2 linked regions of the Homo sapiens genome follow. The protein of the gene in region 1 binds, or shares a complex with, the protein of each later gene. Each region holds a gene or a part of one and is shown in the gene's direction. Other genes may lie near its edges. The genes, in order: POLH and REV1.

Region 1 (12,737 bases):
TATATATATATTTTTTTTTTTTTTTTTTGAGACGGAGTCTCACTCTGTCGCCCAGGCTGGAATGCAATGGCATGATCTCGGCTCACTGCAACCTCTGCTTCCCAGGTTCAAGCAGTTCTCCTGCCTCAGCCTCCTGAGCCCATGTAGCTGGGACTACAAGTGCACGCCACCACACCCAGCTAATTTTTGTATTTTTAGTAGAAACAAGGTTTCATCATGTTGACCAGGCTGGTCTTGAACTCCTGACCTCAGGTGACCCACCTGCCTTGGCCTCCCAAAGTGCTGGGATTACAGGCGTGAGCCACTGTGCCCGGCCCACTAAAAATATTTTTTTAAATTAGCCGGGCATGGTGGCAGGTGCCTGTAATCCCAGCTACTCAGGAGGCTGAAGTGGTAGGAGAATCACTTGAGCTCGAGAAATCAAGGCTGAAGTGAGCCGAGATCTCACCACTGCACGCCAGCCTGGACAACCAGAGTGAGACCCTACTCAAAAAGAAACTCCAACCTAAGCTATATGTTTAAAGTTGCAAAACCTAGATCAATATTATGTGGATCTCCAAGCACAGTTGCTTTAAAAATATATATTTAATATAAAAATAAAAATATAAAATATATAAAAGTTACACATATATAACATTTCCTCCAAGTGGTGTTCACTCTATTTTATGTGTATATATTATATATATATTATGAATAAAGAACTGATAAACATTCCTTCCAGCGTGATGGTTCCAGATTTTTTCCATGCTACGGCCAACAGTAGCCCTACTAGTGTTGGAAAAAAATGGACACAAAGGAATAAGAAATTATTTGTTAGAGACATCCCCCTGACGTACATAGGGGTGAAATAACAATTTCTAGGGTTTCTTTTAAAAACCTTCGAGGCAGGGAGAGAGGATAGGCGGTGGAAAAAGTAAATGCGGTAAAATCTTTGATTGCTGAATTTAGGTGACAGGAACATGCAGAATCACTGTCGTATTCTCTCCACTTTTGTGTCTATTTTAAATATTAATAATAAAAACCAAACTAATGGAACCCAATTGTTTCTGATTCCAAACCCTGTGGCAGACATCTACATATTGTAACATTTCCTCCAAGTGGTGGTCACTCTCTTTTTTGAAGTTAACATCACTTTAAAAATGTACAGCACAAGTATTTTCTCCTAAATGGCCATTTCTCACAGCCCACACACGTTGTTTTATGGGCAAGTAAGCTTGAATTGTATTAACACCCCCAAACTGCAACATAAGTCAGTCCCAAGAGCAGAGCATTCGGGTCTCACGCAAACTACTTTCAGGAAACCAAAGTGCCCTTGTTAAAATGCAAAGTAAGTGGTAGAAGTTATCTTTGCGCAAAATAGCCTAAAAATATTACACTCAAAAACATGGGAGAAGTAGGGGTGCGAGAATTTCCCCGGAAAATGTCCAAGACACAAACGAAAGTTAGCGAGATGTTAAAGCATATAAGCATAAGGGTACCAGAGGGGCTGGAGCTCGGTCAGGGCCAGGGGAGTGGGCCAGCAGGAAAACGTTTAGTGCAGGAGAGACCATAAAGAACGAAGCTGGTGTTGGGGGCGGGATCTACACGTGCGCCTCGGGAAGGCGAGGGGATGTCGGGCTTGGGGAATGAAAATGGGCGAGGGTCATGTTGCGGACAAGAGTGCACAGAAGCGAGGAAAGGGGGAGGAGAGGGCTGTGGGAAGCTGCGGCGAGATGAGAAGCAGCATAGGGACCGGAGTGTCCCAGGCAAAGGACAGGAGCGGCGAGTAGAGAAGGCGGCGATTTGGGAGAGGCGCGGAGGGCCGCGAGGGGAAGGTCCCGGGGAGTTGGGAAAGGAGGTCCAGGGGCCGCGTGGGCGGGAGACTACCCCAGTTACAGGCGGCGCCGGAGCTGCTGGGGCTGGGAGAGGGTGTCGGGACCGGCCCAGGACGCCAGGACCCCAGCTACCTTGAGGGCTTCCAGCCGGTAGCGCTGGGTGGAGTTGGGGTCCATCATGACCGTCACCGCTTTCACCAGCTGCTCGCACAGCGCGTTTACTTGATCCATCGCCATGCCTAGCGCCACGCGCCGAGAGCGCACACCACTGCAGTCCCGGGACCACGAGGCACGACAGCTCCCTCGGCGAGACCACCCGTTGGTACCGGGCCGCGGCGGGCGGCGGGGGTGGGAAGCTGGAGGAGGAGCGTTAGCAGCAACTCGCGCTGGGAAGAAGCCGGCGCTGCGCACGCGCCCGGCCCGCCACTGCGCACGCGCCCGCGGAAGTGGCGGCTCCCGTGTGCAGGTTGAGCCTAGGTGGGCGGGGCGGGAGGCGGAAGGGCCGCGGTGCGCAGCCGCGTCAACGGCCCTTCGCAGCGGGCGCGCTGTCAGACCTCAGTCTGGCGGCTGCATTGCTGGGCGCGCCGCTCTCGTCTGATCCCTGCTGGGGACGGTTGCCCGGGCAGGATCCTTTACGATCCCTTCTCGGTTTCTCCGTCGTCACAGGGAATAAATCTCGCTCGAAACTCACTGGACCGCTCCTAGAAAGGCGAAAAGATATTCAGGAGCCCTTCCATTTTCCTTCCAGTAGGCACCGAACCCAGCATTTTCGGCAACCGCTGCTGGCAGTTTTGCCAGGTGTTTGTTACCTTGGTAAGAAAATTTAGAACCGTTCGCTGTCACTGTGTTCAGACTTTCTATGTTGCCTTGGCTATTGGTTTTATAATGTAGCAGTGACTGGGCCAAGGTTGCGTGAAATATAAATCATGCTAACAGGGATAAGGCCCTGGTACTGTCTTCTAAGATTTTTCTTGTAGAAAAAAGTATGTTTTTCCCTGTAGTTGTTAAACCTCTCTCTTGGAATTACTTTCCTGGATGTATTATTACCTGGTGGGCACTAAACTTGTTTTGTGCGGATTGGGGTAACTCGAGATGTTTAAAGGGAATAATTGCAATCAGTGAAGGTTTGTGCAGTTTTGATAATTGGCCAAGTGCTATGTATAAGGTTTCAAAGTAGTGTAATCCTTATCCAAAAGCATGGCTTGGGCAGAAAGTCTTCTTCATTTTCCATCTTTATAAAGCTCTTGGCCGGGCGCGGTGGCTCACGCCTGTAATCCCAGCACTTTGGGAGGCGGAGGCGGGCGGATCACCTGAGGTCAGGAGTTCGAGACCAGCCTCACCAACATGGTGAAACCCCGTTTCTACTAAACATACAAAAATTATGTTTGCATTTTTAGTATTTTTATACAGGCGTGGCGGTGCGCGCCTGTAATCCCAGCTACTCGGGAGGCTGAGGTGGGAGAATCGCTTGAACCCGGGAGGCGGAGGTTCAGTGAGCCGAGATCGCGCCTTTGCACTCCAGCCTGGGCGACAGAGCGAAACTCCGTCTCAAAAATAAATAAATAAAGCTCTTGCTTTCTCCAGTAAATACATAAACGGAAAACCTCAACAGCTTTATTATCTGTTAAAGTCTGCATGTCTGTTTTTGTGATTGTGTGCTTAGTAAATTGTGTGCTGAACATAAATCACTGCTTCCTATTCTTGCTCCACTTCTGGTATTTGGATCTAATATGGTGCTTAGCCTGTGTTTTTTTGTGTTACAATACTATTTGTTGGCTCAGTCTGTTCCAGTACTACTGAAAAGCCACTTCAAAGTAGAGGGACTTCTGGCATGTTATAGTTTTAACTTGTAAATGTTTAAAGTATCACATTCTGCCTGTTTTAGGCGTGGTCGATTGGAATTTATAAGGAATTAATGCTTTGACTGCTCTGATTTTAATTATTTTTCTTTCCACTCACCTTCCTGCTTTGCAGTTGTAAGACGTTTTTTTTTTCAAGGTGAATGTTAGTTTTTGAAAAACTTTTTTTAGAATACAGTTGGGTGCTCACTCAACTGTATAACCTGTGTTTCTCGTATTTAAATCATGGATTGCTGGTGTTTCGATTGTCTTATTTAGGTCTTGGCTCCCAAACTGCTGCATATTGGAATTACCTGGAGAGCTTTTAAAAATCCCCGGCCTGGCGCGGTGGCACACGCCTGTAATCCCAGCACTTTGGGAGGCCGAGGCGGGCGGATCACGAGGTCAGGAGATCGAGACCATCCTGGCTAACACGGTGAAACCCCGTCTCTACTAAAAATACAAAAAATTAGCCGGGCGGGGTGGCACGCGCCTGTAGTCCCAGCTAATGGGGATGAGGCAGAGGAATCACTTGAAACCGGGAGATGGAGGTTGCAGTGAGCTGAGATCTCACCACTGCACTTCAGCCTGGGTGACAGACGGAGACTCTGTCTAGGAAAAAAAAAAATCCCCATGCTAGGCCGAGCGCGATGGCTCACGCCTGTAATCCCAGCACTTTGGGAGGCCGAGGTGGGTGGATCGCCTAAGGTCAGGAGTTAGAGACTAGCCTGGCCAACATGGTGAAACCCAGTCTCTACTCGAAATACAAAAATTAGCCGGGCGTGGTGGCGTGCGCCTGTAATCCCAGCTACTCAGGAGGCTGAGGCAGGAGAATCGCTTGAACCCGGGAGGCGTAGGTTGCAGTGAGCCGAGACTGTGCCATTGCACTCCAGCCTGCGCAACGAGAACGAAACTCTAACTCAAAAACAACAACAACAACAAAAAACTCATGCCCAGGTCATACCCATACCAATTAAGTTAGTATATATAGTTGTGGAAGTCAAATATCAGTAGTATTTAAAGCAGCCTGGCGGGGGGACAAGAGCGAGACTTTGTCTCAAAAAAAAAAAAGTGTCATGGTCATGAAAAACAAGGAACAACCGAGGAAATGCCACAGATTGGGGGGCAGTAAAGTATGTAGTTAATAATATGCCAATGTTCATTTTTAAATTTTGGTAATTGTGTTAAGTAAGATGTTAACATCAGGAAACTGGGAGTAGGAGAACTCTACCATTTTTGCGATTTTCTGTAAGTCTAAAAGTATTTCAGAGTAAAAGGTTGACATTTTTCATGAATGCTATGATGTTATATATTATTTTCTCCTTCTCTTTTCTCTGAATTTATACTTGAGATTTGTCTGTCAACTGATTCCGTATTGGTTCTCTTCCCCTGGTGATGTGCATTTTAATTTCCATTTCCCCATGACTAATGATGGTGAGCCTATTTTTATGTGCCAATTGGCTATGTTTGTATTTTGTGGTTAGTTCTTTTAAGGATAAGTATTTTTAAAGCTTTTAATACCTATTGCCTTCATAAAATTGTACTAATTTATCCTTATGCCAGCAGTACAGGTTGAGTATCTGTGATATTGTGATATATGTATGTTAGTTTTTGTCCACGGTTCCTAGCTCATAACTCCCCTAGCTTTCGTTATAATGTTGGAGCTCTTGAAGCAAGCCTCAGAAAACAGAATCTCTCTCTGGCCTTCTGCCCTCCTTTCACCTGCCCAAAGCAGGACTCTAATCTTCCCCTGCCTTTCTGATTATGGGTCATAAGACTTTCATTTCAGAAGAGTTCCTACCCCATACCCTGGAGAAAGGAATGCTACCCAGAGAGGCCAGGAAGAATCTGGACAGGCCTTGCTGGGTTTCCCCAGTCTATTAGTATTAGATCATATCTTTTTTGTCCAGTCACATTTCTACACGGATGTCAGTCATGCCTATCCAATGAAGTTTCCATAAAAGGCCCAAGAGGAGAGGGTTCGAAGAGCTGCTGGATAGGAGCAAAAGGAAGTTCCTGGAGAGTGGTGTTCCCAGGGAGGGCATGCCTTGCCATGTGTATCTCTTCATCTGTATATCCTTTATAATAAACTAGTAAATTTGATTACCTGAGTTCTGTGAGCCACTCTGGCAAATTAACTGAACCCAAAGAGGGGCTCATGAGATTCCCAATTTATATCCAGTCAGTTAGAAGCACAGGTAAAACAACCTGTGGCTTGTGATTGGCATCAGAAGTAGGGGGCAGTCTTGTGGGACTGAGCCATCAACCTGTGAGATCTGACGCTTTCTCCAGGTAGATAATGTCAGACTCGAATTGGAGGATACCCACTTGGTGTCTGCTGCAGAATTGATTGCTTGTTTGTTGGTGGGGAGAAATCCTCACACATTTGGTCACAGAAGTCTACCTTATTGATTGTTGTTGAGTGAAAGAATCTTTTTTTTTTTTTTTTAAATTTATTTTTTTATTGATAATTCTTGGGTGTTTCTCACAGAGGGGGATTTGGCAGGGTCATGGGACAATAGTGGAGGGAAGGTCAGCAGATAAACAAGTGAACAAAGGTCTCTGGTTTTCCTAGGCAGAGGACCCTGCGGCCTTCCGCAGTGTTTGTGTCCCTGATTACTTGAGATCAGGGATTGGTGATGACTCTTAACGAGCATGCTGCCTTCAAGCATCTGTTTAACAAAGCACATCTTACACCGCCCTTAATCCATTTAACCCTGAGTGGACACAGCACATGTTTCAGAGAGCACAGGGTTGGGGGTAAGGTCACAGATCAACAGGATCCCAAGGCAGAGGAATTTTTCTTAGTGCAGAACAAAATGAAAAGTCTCCCATGTCTACTTCTTTCTACACAGACACGGCAACCATCCGATTTCTCAATCTTTTCCCCACCTTTCCCGCCTTTCTATTCCACAAAGCCGCCATTGTCATCATGGCCCGTTCTCAATGAGCTGTTGGGCACACCTCCCAGACGGGGTGGTGGCCGGGCAGAGGGGCTCCTCACTTCCCAGTAGGGGCGGCCGGGCAGAGGCGCCCCTCACCTCCCGGACGGGGCGGCTGGCCGGGCGGGGGGCTGACCCCCCAACCTCCCTCCCGGACGGGGCGGCTGGCCGGGCAGAGGGGCTCCTCACTTCCCAGTAGGGGCGGCCGGGCAGAGGCGCCCCTCACCTCCCGGACGGGGCGGCTGGCCGGGCAGGGGGGCTGACCCCCCCACCTCCCTCCCGGACTGGGCGGCTGGCCGGGCGGGGGGCCGACACCCCCACCTCCCTCCCGGACGGGGCGGCTGGCCGGGCGGGGGGCCGACCCCCCCACCTCCCTCCCGGACTGGGCGGCTGGCCGGGCAGAGGGGCTCCTCACTTCCCAGTAGGGGCGGCCGGGCAGAGGCGCCCCTCACCTCCCAGACGGGGCGGCTGGCCGGGCGGAGGGCTGACCCCCCCACCTCCCTCCCGGACGGCACGGCTGGCCAGGCGGGGGGCTGACCCCCCCACCTCCCTCCCGGATGGGGCGGCTGGCCGGGCGGGGGGCTGACCCCCCCCCACCTCCCTCCCGGACGGGGTGGCTGCCGGGCGGAGACGCTCCTCACTTCCCAGATGGGGTGGCTGCCGGGCGGAGAGGCTCCTCACTTCTCAGACGGGGCAGCTGCCGGGCGGAGGGGCTCCTCACTTCTCAGACGGGGTGGTTGCCAGGCAGAGGGTCTCCTCACTTCTCAGACGGGGCAGCCGGGCAGAGACGCTCCTCACCTCCCAGACGGGGTCTCGGCAGGGCAGAGGCGCTCCTCACATCCCAGATGGGGCGGCGGGGCAGAGGCGCTCCCCACATCTCAGACGATGGGCGGGCGGGCAGAGACGCTCCTCACTTCCTAGATGTGATGGCGGCTGGGAAGAGGCGCTCCTCACTTCCTAGATGGGATGGCGGCCGGGCGGAGACGCTCCTCACTTTCCAGACTGGGCAGCCAGGCAGAGGGGCTCCTCACATCCCAGACGATGGGCGGCCAGGCAGAGACACTCCTCACTTCCCAGACGGGGTGGCGGCCGGGCAGAGGCTGCAATCTCGGCACTTTGGGAGGCCAAGGCAGGCGGCTGCTCCTTGCCCTCGGGCCCGCGGGGCCCGTCCGCTCCTCCAGCCGCTGCCTCCCGGGCGGCGCTCGCCGGCGCGGCGGCAAAGACTGAGACAGCTCTGCTGCCCGCTGAACTCCATCCTCCCGGCGGTCGGGCGGCGGCGGCTGCGGTCGGTCGCGGCAGCGGCTCCGCTTCATATCTGCAGCTGGGGCCCGCGGGCGTCAGCGCCGCGACTGTCCCGGCTCCGCACTGCCCCGGGCCGCAGCGCAGCCGCGCCAACCACCACCCGCGGCCACCATGGCCGGACGGGCTCCCTAAGCCACCGACCCCAGCCCGCGGCGCCTTCGAGCCTTCTAGGGCCTCCGGCGCCGCGACCTCCTCTCAAGATCGAGTGAAAGAATCTTAAAAACTGTTTTTTCCACTCAGGGTATCCCTAATCTGAAATTTGAAATCTTCCAAAATCCAAAAAATTTTTTGCACCAACACAGCATTCAAAGGAAATGTTTATTAGAGCATTGTAGGTTTAGGATTTTTGGATTACGGATGCTTAACTGGTGATTATAATGCAAATATTGCAAAATTTGAAAAAAATGCAAAATCTCAAGCACTTTGGATCCCAGCCATTTCAGATAAGGGATACTCAACCTGTATATTTAAATGCCTATTTCATTCTTGTTAGTTTCCATGCTCCCATGCTCATGGTAACTCATCAGTGAAAGAATGGAATTACAGTTTTCCCTGGCATTTTGGATTAGGTGTTTTTCTAACTGTCCATAAAATGTTGTGTTACAGAAAAATGGCTACTGGACAGGATCGAGTGGTTGCTCTCGTGGACATGGACTGTTTTTTTGTTCAAGTGGAGCAGCGGCAAAATCCTCATTTGAGGAATAAACCTTGTGCAGTTGTACAGTACAAATCATGGAAGGGTGGTGGGTATGTATCATTGTTATTGTCACAACTATTCAATGGTAACACAGTGGCACTGTGGCAGGTCCTTTGTTGTTGTGGTGGTGGTGGTGGTGGTGACAGGGCCTTTCTCTGTTGTCCCATCCAGAGCGCAGTGGCACCATCAGCTCACAGCAGCTTTGACCTGGGCTCAAGTGATCATCCCTCTTCAGTCTCCCAAATAGTTAGAACTACAGGAGCGCCCCACCATGCCAAGCTGATTTTATTTTTTGGGGGGTGGGTAGAGATGGGGATTGGTTGGGGGGGCAGGGCTCACTATATTGCCCAAGCAGGTCTTGAACTCCCGGCCTCAAGCAGTCCTTCTGCCTTGGCCTCCCAAAGTACAGGAATTGCCAGCATGAGCTGCTGTGCCTGGCCCTATTTTTGAGATTTCTGAACTGCTTTGTTTTGGATTGAATGATGGCATCTGTGGTCAAAAAGTTTCTAATATGTTTATAGATTACTTGTGTTAAATGTTACTTGTTTTTGCTTGTGATCATATAATATGTTTTCTGTTTCCTTTTTTTTCTAACCTTAGAATAATTGCAGTGAGTTATGAAGCTCGTGCATTTGGAGTCACTAGAAGTATGTGGGCAGATGATGCTAAGAAGTTATGTCCAGATCTTCTACTGGCACAAGTTCGTGAGTCCCGTGGGAAAGCTAACCTCACCAAGTAAGAAAAAAACATTATTTAAGGAGACATAAAGGAGTCGAAAATAATACTCCATGAGGCTAGGAACTGGTGTTTTGAATTTGTTCCATGTAAATAACACCGGAAAAAATTCTTTTTGGTTAGCCATCTTGTCTCTGTGAAATGAAAAACAGATTTTAATATTGTGTTTTGGGGACAGTTCAAAACCATTATACCATATAAGAGTTGCTGCCTTTGATATCTATTCAGTTCCTTAATTGTTCAAAATTGGTTGTTAAATTCAGACTTAATACCAATTCCCATGTTCTCCATCCAAAAATCTAAAGTATTTGAAAAATTGACTGTGAAACTGAGAATTTTTCCAGGAAAGGCTGAGTCAAACTGACATTGTAGTACAATATCAGGAATTAGTTGCTATAATTGAACAATATCAAGGGAGATTTCTCTGTTTTTAGATTAAGCTATCTCTCCGCAAATATTAGAAGTTTCACCTTGGAATGGGGGATATGAATCAGCATAGCTAAGTCAGAGGTAGGCACAAACCCCAGCCTTTAATCCTAACAGCTAATATGTATTAAACATATTATCACATGCCAGGCACAGTGTTAAGCTCTCTATAGGCAATATCTCTATTAAATCTGACATTGTTATAAGGTAGGTACTAATATTACTCCCCCTTCACAGATAAGGAATCAAGTTCAGAGAAGTTAAATAATTTAAGTTAGGCTGGGGATGGTGGCTCATGCCTGTAATCCTAGCATTTAGGGAGGCTGAGGCGGGCAGATCACTTGAGTCCAGGACACCAGCCTGGGCAACATAGGGACCAGCCTGGGCAACATGGGGAAACCCCATCTCTAACAGAAAATACAAAAATTAGCCAGGCATGGTGGCACACACTTGCAGTCCCGGCTACTCAGGAAGCTGAGTTGAGAGGATTGCTTGAGCCTGGGAGGCAGAGGTTGCAGTGGGCCCAGATCACACCACTGCACTCCGGTCTGGGTGACAGAGTGAGACCCTGTCTCAAGAAAGAGAAAAGTTCAGACAGCTAAGTGAAAGACTGAGGATTCACATCTGTTTTTTAAGATTCTAGTATCTATGTTCTCAAGGTACACTATACTATGTGTTGTGGTATAGGAATCATGCTTTGACTTAGGACCTGACATACTTCTGAATTCTAATTCTAATTCTATGAATTAGAAGTCTAAAGGTAGAGTGGCATACAGACCCACATTGGAATTATTGCTAGAAAAGAAGATAGACTTGACTGAAGATTAAGTTTTCCAAATACTCTTAAAAATACCTTGCAGTGATTTGCTCAAGAGGCTGTGAGGAAGCACTGAAATAGAGTATTGTTTTAGAAAAACTCAAACTATGGTTTTCCTCTCCTCTCACACCACAAGAACAATCAACACAGAAGACATCTGTGACCAAAGGTGTGGAAGTATTTCCCCACACACCAATCAGCAGACACCAGCTGCATGTCCTCGCACTCAATTCCAACACTGTCTACCTGGAGATGGCATCAGATTCCACATGTTGAGGGCTCAATACCACAAGAACACCCCCTCCTTCCTTTCCATCACAAGTCCAGGCCTTTAGAACGTCTGAACAGCTGGCTTTAAGTTGGGGTTCCTGCAACCCCCTCTTTGGATTTGATTAATTTGCTGAAGCGACTCACAGAACTCAGGAGAACACTTACTTATGTTTATTATAAGGGATATTACGAAGGATACAGATAGGTTGGGCATGGTGGCTCACGCCTGTAATCCTAGCACTTTGGGAGGCTGAGACAGGAGGATTGCTTGAGCTCAGAAGTTTGAGACCAGCCTGGGCAACATAGTAAGACCTCGTCTCTACCAAAATTAAAACAAAAACAAAAACAAAAAAATTTAGCTAGACATGGTGTTGTGCAGCTCTAGTTCCAGCTACTCAGGAAGCTGAGGTGGGAGGGTCGCTTGAGCCCAGGAGATTGTGGTTCCAGAGAGTCATGATCAAACCACTGCATGCAGCCTGGGCAACAGTGAGATCCTGTCAAAAAGAAGATGAAGATGAAGAGATATATAGAGCAAGGCATGTGAGAAGGGGTGCGGAGCTTTCATGCCCTCCCTGGGTGAGCCACCCTCCAGGAATCTCTACTATTACAGCTATTTGGAACCTCTCCGGACCCTGTCCTCTTGGGTTTTTAGGGAGGCTCCGTTATGTACTCATGACTGATTAAACCATTGGCTATGGGTAATCAACTTGACCTGCAGTATCTCTCTTCCTCTCCCCTCCCCAGAAGTTGAGGGGGTGGGGCCAAAAGTCCCAACCCTCTAATTATGCCGTGGTCTTTTTGGTGACCTGCCCTATCCTGAAGCTATTAGTTAACATTAGCATACAAAAAGACAAAACTTGGGTGATTCCAAGGATTTTTGGAGTTGTATGCCAGGAAACTGGGATGAAGACCGAATATATATTTCACAATATTATAAGTATCCTTTTCTGGCTGTGTGTATGAGTATATTGCTCTTTCTTTTCTTTTTTTTTTTTTTTTTGTGGGTGGGGGACGGAGTTTCACTCTTGTTGCCCAGGCTAGGGTGCAATGGTGCAATCTCGGCTCACCACAACCTCCATCTCTTGGATTCAAGTGATTCTCCTGCCTCAGCCTCCCGAGTAGCTGGGATTACAGTCATGTGCCACCGTGCTGGCTAATTTTATATTTTTAGTAGAAATGGGGTTTCTCCATGTTGGTCAGGCTGGTCTCGAACTCCTGACCTCAGGTGATCCACCCACCTCTGCCTCCCAAAGTGCTGGGATTACAGGTGTGAACTGCTGCGCCCGATCTTGCTCTTTATTTTCTTTGAGGCCTATCCTCTTCCTAGTTCAAATAATGATTTAAAAAAAAAAAAAGTCAAGTATTTCTCTAATTCTCTAATTTGAGAGTGTTTTAGAACAATAATTATATTAGTTTTTATGGGTGTCATGGTGAAGAGGTACCGATGTTTTCATTTTTATGGTAAATATAAAGTCAATAGGAACAAAGAACTGGACACTACAAAGCAGGTCCAAGCCAAAGGAAAGCAAATATCTGTATATTGGCCGGATGTGGTGGCTCACGCCGGTAATCCCAGCACTTGGGGAGGCCGAGGTGGGTGGATCACCTGAGGTCAGGAATTCGAGATCAGCCTGGCCAACATGGTGAAACCCTGTCTCTACTAAAAATACAAAAAAATTCACCAGGCGTGGTGGCAGGCGCCTGTAATCCCAGCTACTTGGGAGGCTGAGGCAGGAGAATTGCTTGAACCCGGGAGGTGGAGGTTGCAGTGAGGCGAGATGCCACTATTGCACTCCAGCCTGGGAGACAAGAGCGAGACTTCATCTCGAAAAACAAGAAAAAAAAGAAAATATCTGTATATTGTCGTAGAAAACTAGGTATAGAGCCAGAAGAGCT
Region 2 (12,737 bases), on another chromosome or scaffold:
GCAGCTGGATCACTTGAGGCCAGGAATTTGAGACCAGCCTGGCCAACATGGTGAAACTCCATTTCCACTAAAAGTACAAAAATTAGCCGGACATGGTGGCATTCGCCTGTAGTCCCAGCTACTCAGGAGGCTGGGGCAGGAGGATTGCTTGAACCCAGGAGGCAGAGGTTGCAGTGAGCTGAGATCGCGCCAGTGCACTCCTGCCTGGGCAACAGAGCAACATTCTGTCTCAAAAAAATGATACACAAAGGCAGACTATAGTAGCTAGAAAAATGATGGTGAAGGAGAGCAACTTCATTTACATAGGTGTATACATTTAATTGGTAAAAAGATGAATGAATCACTGTAATGTCTGAAAACTGGTAAAAGCATTTAAAAACGCTGTTTTTTTTGGGGGGGGGGGGGGTTGTTTGTTTTGAGACAGAGTCTGGCTCTGTCACCCAGGCCTGAGGGCAGTGGTGCGATCTCGGCTCATTGCAACTTCTACCTCCTGGGTTCAAGCAATCCTCCTGTCTCAGCCTGTTGGGTAGCTGGGATTATGGGGCATGCCACCATGCCCAGCGAATTTTTGTATTTTCAGTAGAGATAGGGTTTCACTATGTTGGCAAGGCTGATCTTGAACTCCTGACTTCAAATGATCCGCCCACCGCAGCCTCCCATAGTGTTGGGATTACAGGCATGAGCCAATGTGCCCGGTCTGAAACACTCGTCTTTTATGTCAGGGCCAACTACTTAATATTAAACTTCATGTAAGATTCGTGACCAATATGAAGATGTGTGGTTTTACATGTCATTTTATATTGCACTGTATTTCATCTGTGAAACCAAAATTTTGAGACTTTTGACACTGAAAGCTACTTACAATATGAAGTATAGTTTCATTAAAGATTAGCTCATGCCAACCATACATGGTGCATTCATGTATATGATGATATTGCTAAGTCGTGAGACGACTGCTCTTAAACAGAGAAACTCCCAAGTTACCATGAAAGCAGGAATTATAAATTACAATTAGAGAACATAATTTATAAAATACATTTTTTATCAGTTGGTTATCTTGAATTATATTTACCTACCTGTTATGATACACATGTATCTCAAATAGTAAATAGTGGTCATTTATTTATTTACTTTAAAAACTTATTTATGTAGAGACAGGATCTCGCTCTGTTGCCCAGGCTGGCCTTGAACAATCCTTTTGCCTTGACCTCCCAGCGTTTTGGGATTACAGGTGTGAGCCACTGTGCTCAGCTTTTAGTGGTTATTTCTATAAGCAGATGAAGTAATGTGATTATCTTCTTAAACATTTCTATGGGAAAATCCAATTCAATTTATAATAATTTTTTCTGGGAATATTTCTTGTTTAATGGCCTGGAACTTCATTTGTTCATTATACATGGAAAGGATCATCCAAAACACGAAATAACTTTCCTTTGGAAAGAGAACTGGTAGTAATTTGTTAATCTGTTACTGAGTTAGTAATTCTGTTTGCAATGGGACAGCCCGCTCATGCCAGAGAAGCTCAAAAGGCTCTGAAGGAAATGGTGGGTGAGGTCAGCACATCTTTGAGACCTAATAATGCTGATGGACCATTTGGTCCTCCTTCAAGAGTTCTTAAAGATCTAAGAATTGTTTATTGGCTGTACTGTAAACACAATGAAAGGAGAGTCAAGAAACAACATACAGAGAATTTATCTTTCTCTTCTGAATATTTGCTATACCTCAGCATACATAATCTTGGAACCTAAAACTTCTCTTGGAATCAAGAACATTGTGTTTACCATTCACTTGTGCTTTAGCTGGAAAATATGTATTTATTTGTGCATATGTTAGCTAAAATCTACCTTTTTCTAAATTTCTCAACTTATTTTTAGTTGACCTAAGTGTCCATTACGGTTTTTACCTTAAAGTTCTAGTGTTCCATAATTTTTCTTTCCCCCTTGGTTGCCAGTGTAACTAATTTGGTATTTCTGGCTTCCTTGAAGGGAGACTATGGCATTCACTTTTATAATCTTCTTTGTAACTGTTTACAACTTTTCTATAACTCTTTTAAACAGTTCCATACTACTTTAGTACTAGTGAATACATATGGAATGAAGCTTTTGTTTTTTAATTCTATCACTTACAGGACTGTAACTCTTGACCAGGCAACAGATAATGCAAAAATAATTGGAAAGGCGATGCTAAACATGTTTCATACAATGAAACTAAATATATCAGATATGAGAGGGGTAAGTATATAGTAACATTGTAAATTCTGACTTTGTGTAATGTATCTCTCATTTTTGAGGCTTGCTCTCAAAAGGGTTATTGCTGGTGTATAGGGACTTTATATGTAGGTCTTTAGCTGCTTTGTAATACAAGGAAAAGAGAAACAAAAATTCTTGACTTCCTCCATTTTGACCTCCTTCATTTTAGAATAATTTTCTTAGATTCTTACTGTACTTTTCCAAGGTACCCCTGATTAACCAGGGGCTAATATACATGTCTTCCCTGTTCTTGTTTCCTAGAAGTAGATATGACTGTGAGGAATATGAATACATAAATTTTGTACCTTTAAGTTCCTTTTTAATCAGAAACATACTCTGCATCTGCTGTATGATGACCTAGAAGGGAGTGAAACCACAGGCACATCAAGATGCCTTTGAAACAGGCAAGAGGCATCAAAATGTCAAAACCATAGATTTTTGTGTGGGGTTTTTTTTTTTTGAGACAGTTTTTGCCCTGTTGCCCAGGCTGGAGTGCAATGGCGTTGTATCGGCTCACTGCAACTTCCGCCTCCTGGGTTCAAGCAATTCTCCTTCTTCAGCCTCCCGAGTAGCTGGGGGTACAGGCACCCGCTACCACGCCCAGCTAATTTTTTGTATTTTTGGTAGAGATGAGGTTTCACCATGTTGGCCAGGCTGGTTTCAAACTCCTGACCTCAGGTGATCCACCCACCTCAGCCTCTCAAAGTGCTGGGATTACAGGCACTTGCCCCCATCTCTACTAAAAATACAAAAATTAGCCGGGTGTGGTGGTGCATGCCTCATAGTCCCAGCTACTCGGGAGGCTGAGGCAGGAGAATCACTTGAACCCAAGAGGCAGAGCTTGCATGAGCCAAGATCGTGCCACCGCACTCCAGCCTGAGTGACACAGTGAGGCTCTGTCTCAAAAAAAAAAAAAAAAAAAAAAAAAAAGAACCTTTGTAGGTTTAGTTTTATGTGTGCATATGTAAGTAAAGGGTTGTTCTGGCTTGATGTGGGCTTTGTTGAAAGATTAGTCACTAAGCCAGCCGTAATTGTGATTTCTCCCTGAAATACTGTTATAATGGCACTTTATGGAGGGGTCTGCAGTGTACCTGCTGTTCATCACTCCCGCCAATATTTTTTGAGAAGTATTTCATTTAAAAAAGATAAAAATAGTGAAGTTTCCAAGTAGACTGTCCTCTCTTAATTTTTTTTTATCCTAATTTAAAACCTTAGTTGACGAGAACATCAGTGGAATACAGTATTCCACTTGTTTGGATTTTCTGATTTTAAAGATCTTTTGGTATATTTTGGGAGAATTGGATACTCTGAAGTTTGAGATGAATGACCACTCACTAGCTACTTTAGAAATTGTTTTTGTAATAAGTCATATAGAATGCTGTTTGAATACTTTCATTTACCTTTATTCTAGAAACAGGATCCAGGAGATAGTGAAAAGGATTTGCTGAGGATTTTGCTTAGCTGAATTCATATTTTCACTTTAGTTTTCCTAGAAGCATACTCTTTATTCTGGGTTCTAGGTTGGGATTCACGTGAATCAGTTGGTTCCAACTAATCTGAACCCTTCCACATGTCCCAGTCGCCCATCAGTTCAGTCAAGCCACTTTCCTAGTGGGTCATACTCTGTCCGTGATGTCTTCCAAGTTCAGAAAGCTAAGAAATCCACCGAAGAGGAGCACAAAGAAGGTTGGTGGTCATCAATGTGGTTCTTTTTTAGGTGCTGCTTATGTCCTTGGAAAGACGGCAGTTGGTTTTAAAATTGACACAGCTTTATGTGATTTTAAAAATTTATATTCTTCATTATGATGAATCAGTAATAAAGTTTTTTTATTTGTAATGGACAGAGGATTAAAGGCCCTGCCCGATGATCTGAAGAGGCTATTTTATATATTTTCTTTTTGTAGTATTTCGGGCTGCTGTGGATCTGGAAATATCATCTGCTTCTAGAACTTGCACTTTCTTGCCACCTTTTCCTGCACATCTGCCGACCAGTCCTGATACTAACAAGGCTGAGTCTTCAGGGAAATGGAATGGTCTACATACTCCTGTCAGTGTGCAGTCGAGACTTAACCTGAGTATAGAGGTCCCGTCACCTTCCCAGGTACATTTTTGTAGTCCTAAATATAAGTACATTTTATACTCCTAAATATAAATACAAAAATACAAGTTTACAAATGAAAATGGCATTTTTATTTCTTCATCCGTTTAACCAAGAAAGGGAGAACGGGCCACTTGTTTGGGTAGATCATGATGTTGGATTCTAAATAAGCAATATTTGGGTTGAGTGAAAGTGCTTTTGCAAAGATTTGCCACTCTTGCAAGTTGTAAAGCATAGCTGAAAGGCAGTCCTCCTGTGGACTGCCATTGTCTGTGACAGTGGTCATCATGCAGACTTACTGTATTCAGCAAGGCAGCTTTGGTGATTAGTGGTGAAGTAGAGGCCTTATGTCGAAGGGTTTTTGCAGTATTTGCAAACAGGTCTCTGGAGATTTGGATGGTTTAATTCAGCGTGTGTGGGCTGTACATGTGATATACTGCTGGTCCTTGAAAGTAAGGTAGCACCTTAAGCTATATTGGGCAAGTTTATTTGTGCCTCTGCTCCCCCTGCATGGAAGGAGGCGGAAGGAGATGTTAAATACTGGCTGCAAAACTAGGGGAAAGGGCAATGCTGATATGCTTGTATGGCGACAGATACCCACAATTAGTTACTCCTGGCAAGATAAGATTGGTCCACCCAGTTGATGGGATTGCATGTTTCCAAAGGGCCAGATGTGGATGCACAGGTAGGCCCTGGCCAAAGGAACAGTGGATTCTGTCCTGTAAGTTAGAGAAAATTCAGCTTCTAGAAACCCTTTCTTCCAGTGTGCTGCTCTCAGAGTAGAATTATTTGTATTTTTGGGCAGTCTCTCATCTGAAAGGTGAACTTTTGACCCAGGACTGTTACCTGTCCAGAATTTTAACATGTGCCTCAGGCCTTCACCCCTCCCTGGGGTGGGATCTAATTTGAGCTTCACCAAGGCTATTCATATCTGTTGGCCCCAATTGCAGGACATTCTGTGAGTATATTTGGACTTACCTGGTCATGTGATAGTGGCTGGTAGTATATATACACTTCTTTCCAGACTACACATAGTACTTCAGGCTTCAATGACAAAAGGCCAAGACGTTCCAAAAATGTGCTGATTTGGAGGTGGCTTTCCTAGCTTGATGGTCTGTACCTTACATTGATTATCCACAGTATTCAAATTGAAATTTAAAGTGGCGTGTTAACTCCCAAACACCTCATCTCTGAGCATGCTTTAACTTCCTACTCATATGTTTGGCATTTTATAGCTGGATCAGTCTGTTTTAGAAGCACTTCCACCTGATCTCCGGGAACAAGTAGAGCAAGTCTGTGCTGTCCAGCAAGCAGAGTCACATGGCGACAAAAAGAAAGAACCAGTAAATGGCTGTAATACAGGAATTTTGCCACAACCAGTTGGGACAGTCTTGTTGCAAATACCAGAACCTCAAGAATCGAACAGTGACGCAGGAATAAATTTAATAGCCCTTCCAGCATTTTCACAGGTAAGTTAAATATGGGAACCCTCTGCTGTAGTTTCAATATTCTCACCCCCCTGCTCCAACTTAGGACCTGTCTCACTTCCCTTTCTCCTCTGTATCTGACACCACATCCACTGGGGAGGGGAGGGGAGGGGAGGGGAGAGTGGGCTTGTCTCCATCTCCTGCATCTGCAGGATGTAGACACAGAGCAGCCTCCCGCTGAAGCAGCAGGGAAGAGACGGGGGAGGGCATGCTAAGACAGAAACACACTGATCTGGGGCAAACACATCAATGGCCACACTTGAATACAACAGAGCGGAGATGTATAATCCTGCATGGGGGACAGTAACAACCTGAGTCCCTGTTTCAATGTTTTGCTTCCCATTTTCTACTAGTGCATTTTGCCCAGGTTCTGCTGTTGTAGTGGGTTTCTTTAAGTTAGTACTCTTAATTCCTTATTCTTGCTCTTAATTCCTTATTCTTGCTCTAACCATTTTGAAGATTTAATCAGCTTTGATATTGGGGAACTGTTAAGAATTCGTACAGATCAGAAAAGTGAGATTTGAAAACAAAGTCTGTTTTGTGAAAAAGAGAAACCAGCTACCATCTACAATTAGCTCAGGTTTGACTTTGACCTCGTCTTTTCCACTAGGTGGACCCTGAGGTATTTGCTGCCCTTCCTGCTGAACTTCAGAGGGAGCTGAAAGCAGCGTATGATCAAAGACAAAGGCAGGGCGAGAACAGCACTCACCAGCAGTCAGCCAGCGCATCTGGTGAGCCTTGGAAGTGGCATGTAACAAAAATGAAGACAAAGAGTAATGGAGTCACTGTTGTCTAATTATTGCAGTATATAATGGGCAAAGTCTAAGCTGTTGCATTAAGAGCTCTTCATATTGGGATAATATCTGAAGTATACAGTATGAGTAAATATCATCATATTTCTAGTTGGATTTGTGTCTGTACTTTCAGGATTTAAACACACCACTTTTTACTTTTTAAAAAGTTGGAATAGGACATTACCACAAATGTCTTAAATACTTGTTCAGCTAGTTGTCCTTTGAGATGAATACATTAAAGGATGTTGGTTCAAAATGCATCACAAACATCAAACCCACATTTAGTACTACCCATCATAGATGAGCAACATGCCAAAGGTCAAATTAGTAAGTGGCAAAGCAAAGAGAGAATTGGAGAGCCTGTACTTTGGGCCATTGCCATTCACTGCCTCTCACTTGGGGCAGGAGGGGAGGTGTAGGCTAGGGAGCCTGTTGTATTTGGGAGGAGAAAAGAGAACCCAATACTGTCATCCAGACTATCCATACTATCATTTTGTTGAGGATCTTATATCCATCTGCTCTTAGTGCCAAAGAATCCTTTACTTCATCTAAAGGCAGCAGTGAAAGAAAAGAAAAGAAACAAGAAGAAAAAAACCATTGGTTCACCAAAAAGGATTCAGAGTCCTTTGAATAACAAGCTGCTTAACAGTCCTGCAAAAACTCTGCCAGGGGCCTGTGGCAGTCCCCAGAAGTTAATTGATGGGTTTCTAAAACATGAAGGACCTCCTGCAGAGAAACCCCTGGTAATTCCTTAACTTTGACCTTTATGAGATCTTAATATACCTGGATAATGTGTGAATATAGCAATTTTATCCTTTGTTTTCTTAACAGGAAGAACTCTCTGCTTCTACTTCAGGTGTGCCAGGCCTTTCTAGTTTGCAGTCTGACCCAGCTGGCTGTGTGAGACCTCCAGCACCCAATCTAGCTGGAGCTGTTGAATTCAATGATGTGAAGACCTTGCTCAGAGAATGGATAACTACAATTTCAGGTTGGCTTGGCCTGTGTTAGATGGCCCAAGGCTGAGATGTAGTCGTCTCATGATTTGAGAACATAAACAGACTAAACTATGCAGATTTAACCCATTTCTCTAACTCTGATAAGCTTAAAGCAGCTACCCCCAAATCTTTTAAATTCTGGGACTTGCTTTGAAAAGTAACAAAGCCCATTCCTTTGATAGCTGTTAGTGACATAGTTGTAGAAATGCAGTTTTCCTTTATCCATGCAGATCTCTGACTTTCTCCTTCAAAAAGACTGGTCCTCATTTGAAGTTTTTCCCCCTTCCTAGATCCAATGGAAGAAGACATTCTCCAAGTTGTGAAATACTGTACTGATCTAATAGAAGAAAAAGATTTGGAAAAACTGGATCTAGTTATAAAATACATGAAAAGGTAGTAATTCATCACTTTTATCAAATGGGAAAAAATGGCATGTCACAATGGCTGAGGGTGTACTGAGTTGTTTTAAACTTTCTGGGAAACTGTACTCATTAGGGTTAATGAGAAAGTGATATCCTTTATTTTGCCATGTTGACTAAGTAGCAAATAAGGTTCCAAATATGTTGCCCTCAAGGTCTTACATGTGATTAAAAAACCATAGGAAGTGGGCTGGGCACAGTGGCTCACGCCTGTACTTCACTTCGGGAGGCTGGGGTGGGTGGATCGTTTGAGACCAGCCTGGCCAAAATGGCATAACCCCATCTCTACTGAAAAATACAAAAAATAAATAATCTGGGGGGGTGGTGGTGCCCACCTGTGGTCCCAGTTACTTGGGAGGTGGAGGCTGCGGTGAACCATGATTGCACCACTGCATGGCTCCAGCCTGATCGACAGCTTGTCTCAAAACAAAATAAAAAAAAATTTGAGTGTTCTAGGATTTTATTTTTTTTGAGATGGAGTCTCACTCTGTCGCCCAGGCTGGAGTGCAGTGGCAGGATCTTGGCTTACTGCAGCCTCTGCCTCCTGGGTTCCAGTGACTCTCCTGCCTCAGCCTCCCGGGTAGCTGGGATTATAGGCATGTGCCACCATGCCCACCTAATTTTTCTATTTTTTGTAGAGACGGGGTTTTACCATGTTGGCCAGGCTGGTCTCAAACTCCTGACCTCAGGTGATCCGCCCTCCTCGGCCTCCCAAAGTGCTGGGATTACAGGCATGAGCCACACCGCACCTGGCCAGGACTTTTTTTTTTTTTTGCCAAAGTCAATTTTTATATATAAAAAGGAATAATTAGTCTTAAGGACCTTTCCTAATTCCTAATGACATTTCTTCTCTCCCCACCTTTAGGCTGATGCAGCAATCGGTGGAATCGGTTTGGAATATGGCATTTGACTTTATTCTTGACAATGTCCAGGTGGTTTTACAACAAACTTATGGAAGCACATTAAAAGTTACATAAATATTACCAGAGAGCCTGATGCTCTCTGATAGCTGTGCCATAAGTGCTTGTGAGGTATTTGCAAAGTGCATGATAGTAATGCTCGGAGTTTTTATAATTTTAAATTTCTTTTAAAGCAAGTGTTTTGTACATTTCTTTTCAAAAAGTGCCAAATTTGTCAGTATTGCATGTAAATAATTGTGTTAATTATTTTACTGTAGCATAGATTCTATTTACAAAATGTTTGTTTATAAAGTTTTATGGATTTTTACAGTGAAGTGTTTACAGTTGTTTAATAAAGAACTGTATGTATATTTTGTACAGGCTCCTTTTTGTGAATCCTTAAAAACTCAACTCTAGGAAGCAACTACTGTTTATTATACTAAAAGGCTGAAAAACCTCCAGGCCAGACTGCTAAGCTCTGAAATTCCTGAGAGGTCTCAGACCGGGATTCTACTTGTTCCAAGAAAGGGTAAAGCTTCTAAACCATCTTATTCTTGTCTCCAAGCATGAACACAGGAGCATGTTAAGAAAATCTTTACTACTTCTTCCATGCGGAGAAATCTACATATTTTGAATTAGAAACACCCTCACACCCACTTGAAGATTTTTTTCCTGGGAACATTATGTCCCGTAGATCAGAGGTGGTGTTGTCTTTTTGCTTCTACTGGCCATTGAGAAACTTTGATGATAAAAAAGAACGGTATAGATTTTTCAAACGTATATAAAATATTTTTATGTTATATGTTATGCCATAACTTTAAAATAAAAATAGTTTAAAATTCTATGCTAGTGGATATTTGGAACTTTTTCCTCAAACAAACACCCCACACTGACTTCAGCAAAACCCTAAAACTAGCTACAGATTACTACTACGAATGAATCATTAAGTTTTGTGTCTGCAACAATTTAGAAGCACTAAGCCCAAATATCAGGAAATGTGTGTATGATGGAATTTTCTAGGACAAAACAGATCAAGATTAAAACAGATCAAGATTAATGTATAAAAATCTCTACTAAAACAGATCAAGATTAAAACAGATCAAGATTAATGTATAAAAATCTCTACTGTTACCAGGTGCTGGCATACAAGGTAGTGTGATGATAGTTTAGTTTGTAAGATAATTCTTGTCCTAGGAGGACAACTTGTGGGAGAGAAGCTACACTAACATGGAAGCCTAACAGAGCTTGCTTACTGGTGGATGTCTGTTTTCTTTATTGGTAGTTTGGTTTAGAATTGTGATGATTACAATGGACTCGTGACTACACAAGCAGTAAAAAGCAGCCAGCTGTGCTTTTACACCATGGTTTCACACAAAGCAGCTAAAGAAATATCAGAATGCCTAATTTTCTATTTTATAAAAGCCCTAAAGGCATATGGCAGAAGAATGCTGGAAAAATCACTGTGGGAAGAATATGCATAAATAAAGAAGTATTTCTTACGTCAAAAAAGTCCCAAGAATCACAAAATCTGCAGAAGCTTGGTTAATCAAATACTGCAGTACTGATTTAATCAGTATAAAATCGAAAGAGCTTTAGATCTGTAATAAAAATCCAAATTTGGGGAAGGGCAAACTTTAAAACAGCAGCCAAGTAGAGAAGGGTTGGGGAAGGGAGAGGTGAGTGAACAGGCACATTGGAACTGTGGGGACATGTAACTGACCACTGTCAAACCAGTGTAAGTTTCTTGGTTTCTCATGGAAAACATTTTATACACCTATTTTTCTTCCTTCCATACTTAAGTCCATCAGTGTCCAAATACGTCTGTTCCATTTTTTGTCTGATTTTTGTTGGGATATTACAACACAGTATTGCATTTACTCCAGTTCCTGCTCCATGTGAAAAAATTAGATGATTTCAAATACTTTCTTCAGCTCCACAATAAGCTGCCAGTCACTCTTCTGCATTTCATCTCTGAACCAGTCTTTGAGTGCATCAATGGACTGCCGGCTGATCTGCAATGCCCGAGGCACAAACAGGGTAAACAGAACATAACAAACGTGCCAAAGAAAGCTGTGGCCCCAGATGCCCGCTCTCACTGTACTAAAAAGCTTAAGCAGAAATAAAAAACAGGGCTTGCCTGCCTAAGGGAGTAGAATTCCAAAATCACATCTGGTTTGCATGTCAGGCACGAGGGGACCTAAAAGTCCTAGCTTTCTCTGTTGGTGCTGCTTTCCTGATAGAGCAACTTCCTCAACAGACAAGGCCCAGCTAGAGGTCAAGCCCTAATGGGGGATCCAGTCCCATCAGATTCTACAATCAAACTGAAGCCCAAGGAGCTACAGGTACAGGTGACCCAAGAAGAGTGATTCCCTGTTGCTTAAAGTGTGCCACTTTTGCTGAAATACTTACCTTACTAACAAGAATATCTGTAGCTTCAAAATGTCTTCCAAACATTTTGGGTGACTCACCAGGGATAGGTTCTATTTTTACACAAACTTCTTGTCCTTTTTTTGCAACATCCACTTGTTTATGGTTTATTTCAATACTTGTTACTATTCCGATGTCAACAAACTATAAAATAAGAACAAATTAAAATGCATGCAGAAGAATTCATGCCAATCACAGGCGCCATGGCTGGATAGCTGAAGTAAGAACTAGAGCAAAAGCCTGTTTTAAAAGTCATGGCAGTGCGATCCTTTCATCACTCACGGTGTAACATTTTGGTAAACTAGGCTGGCACCACCAACACCCTATTCCCTTCATGATGGTTGTAAGAATGACAGGAGATAATGTGCTTTGCAAAACATTCCAAGTGCCCTGTTGACCCAATGTCATTTCCTATTTTTGCTCTACCATTTCACGTGACAGGTGCCGTAATAGGAGGGATCAGCAGGCACAAAGGGTCTGAGTCAGGAATGAGCTTGAAGTGGCTGATGGGAATGAAGTCAGAGTGAGGACCAATCCTGAAATTTTAAGAATGATGGCCTGTGAGCAGATGAGTGATGTGATCTCAGAGTTTGGGGCAAAAAACCCTGACTCCTTTGTGGAGAAAAAGATTCAGGAGAGTAAGAGTGAAAACAGGGAGAGCTCTGGTTGGTTTAGGAGGCCAAAGCCACATAGAAAGTAACACAAATAAATGTCCAGGCTTAGTCCACTGAAATGGTAGAAAAGCAATGACAACTTCTAAGTGCCATTGCCCATTACAAGAACCAGGTTTGGGCCAGGGAAAGTACTAGATGAGGCTGGAACATCTCAACCAGAAAGGAAGATGATGCTCAGACTGCTGTGTGTCAAGGATACAGGAGCCAGTTGAGCTCCTACTGACCACAATAGAAAATCTGAGTATCAAAAGAATAAAGGTAATGGATTATATTAAAAAAAAAAAAACCCACTGAGTCTATGACTCAATAAAAAGGTCAGTGGGAAGAGGTTCTTTGTAAGAAATGGGGGGACAGGTATATCCACAATTTTGCAACCATCTACGTAATAGTTGACTTAGGCAACGCTTGCCAGTGGGTACTAAAGGCACTGGGATAAAGGCTGTTGAGAAACAGGATATCCATTAGGAACTCCAGGTACCAGACAGATTACAGAGTAATTATAAAGGGGCAAGTTTCTAATGGAGATGGTTGGCGTCTAGCACTTTCCCCAGGAAATCAGAGCATCAGCAGCAGTCAGACAGGCTGGGTCATGCAAGAGGCAGGCACACAGGGAAACTGCATGAGTGTCTTTCCAATAATTCTAACCTGTGTCTAGTTGGGAGGGAGAGAAACAGATAAATCCAAATGGAGGAGGG

Evidence for each region.
Region 2: the proteins of POLH (region 1) and REV1 are in contact, whole or in part, in an NMR structure (PDB 2LSK), measured with the Homo sapiens proteins. Residues at the interface, in NP_006493.1 of Homo sapiens: Thr528, Glu529, Pro530, Phe531, Phe532, Lys533, Lys535, Ser536, Leu539; in NP_057400.1 of Homo sapiens: Asn1158, Leu1159, Ala1160, Gly1161, Leu1171, Leu1172, Trp1175, Ile1179, Asp1181, Pro1182, Met1183, Glu1185, Asp1186, Gln1189, Val1190.

The regions. Positions count from the first base shown.
Region 1 is NC_000006.12:43,573,814-43,586,550, forward strand, and holds the start of POLH (DNA polymerase eta), read left to right. Parts: upstream 1-2,371; 5' UTR 2,372-2,627; intron 2,628-8,502; 5' UTR 8,503-8,506; coding exon 8,507-8,643; intron 8,644-9,193; coding exon 9,194-9,328; intron 9,329-12,737. Other genes in the region: XPO5 (exportin-5), read right to left, coding at 1,947-2,051. UniProt on the Homo sapiens protein: DNA polymerase specifically involved in the DNA repair by translesion synthesis (TLS). Due to low processivity on both damaged and normal DNA, cooperates with the heterotetrameric (REV3L, REV7, POLD2 and POLD3) POLZ complex for complete bypass of DNA lesions.
Region 2 is NC_000002.12:99,397,523-99,410,259, reverse strand, and holds the end of REV1 (DNA repair protein REV1), read left to right. Parts: intron 1-2,128; coding exon 2,129-2,231; intron 2,232-3,769; coding exon 3,770-3,935; intron 3,936-4,153; coding exon 4,154-4,350; intron 4,351-5,582; coding exon 5,583-5,816; intron 5,817-6,444; coding exon 6,445-6,565; intron 6,566-7,153; coding exon 7,154-7,371; intron 7,372-7,459; coding exon 7,460-7,616; exon of another isoform or gene 7,617-7,913; coding exon 7,914-8,016; intron 8,017-8,907; coding exon 8,908-9,019; 3' UTR 9,020-9,783; downstream 9,784-12,737. Other genes in the region: EIF5B (eukaryotic translation initiation factor 5B), read right to left, coding at 10,846-10,953, 11,351-11,512. UniProt on the Homo sapiens protein: Deoxycytidyl transferase involved in DNA repair. Transfers a dCMP residue from dCTP to the 3'-end of a DNA primer in a template-dependent reaction.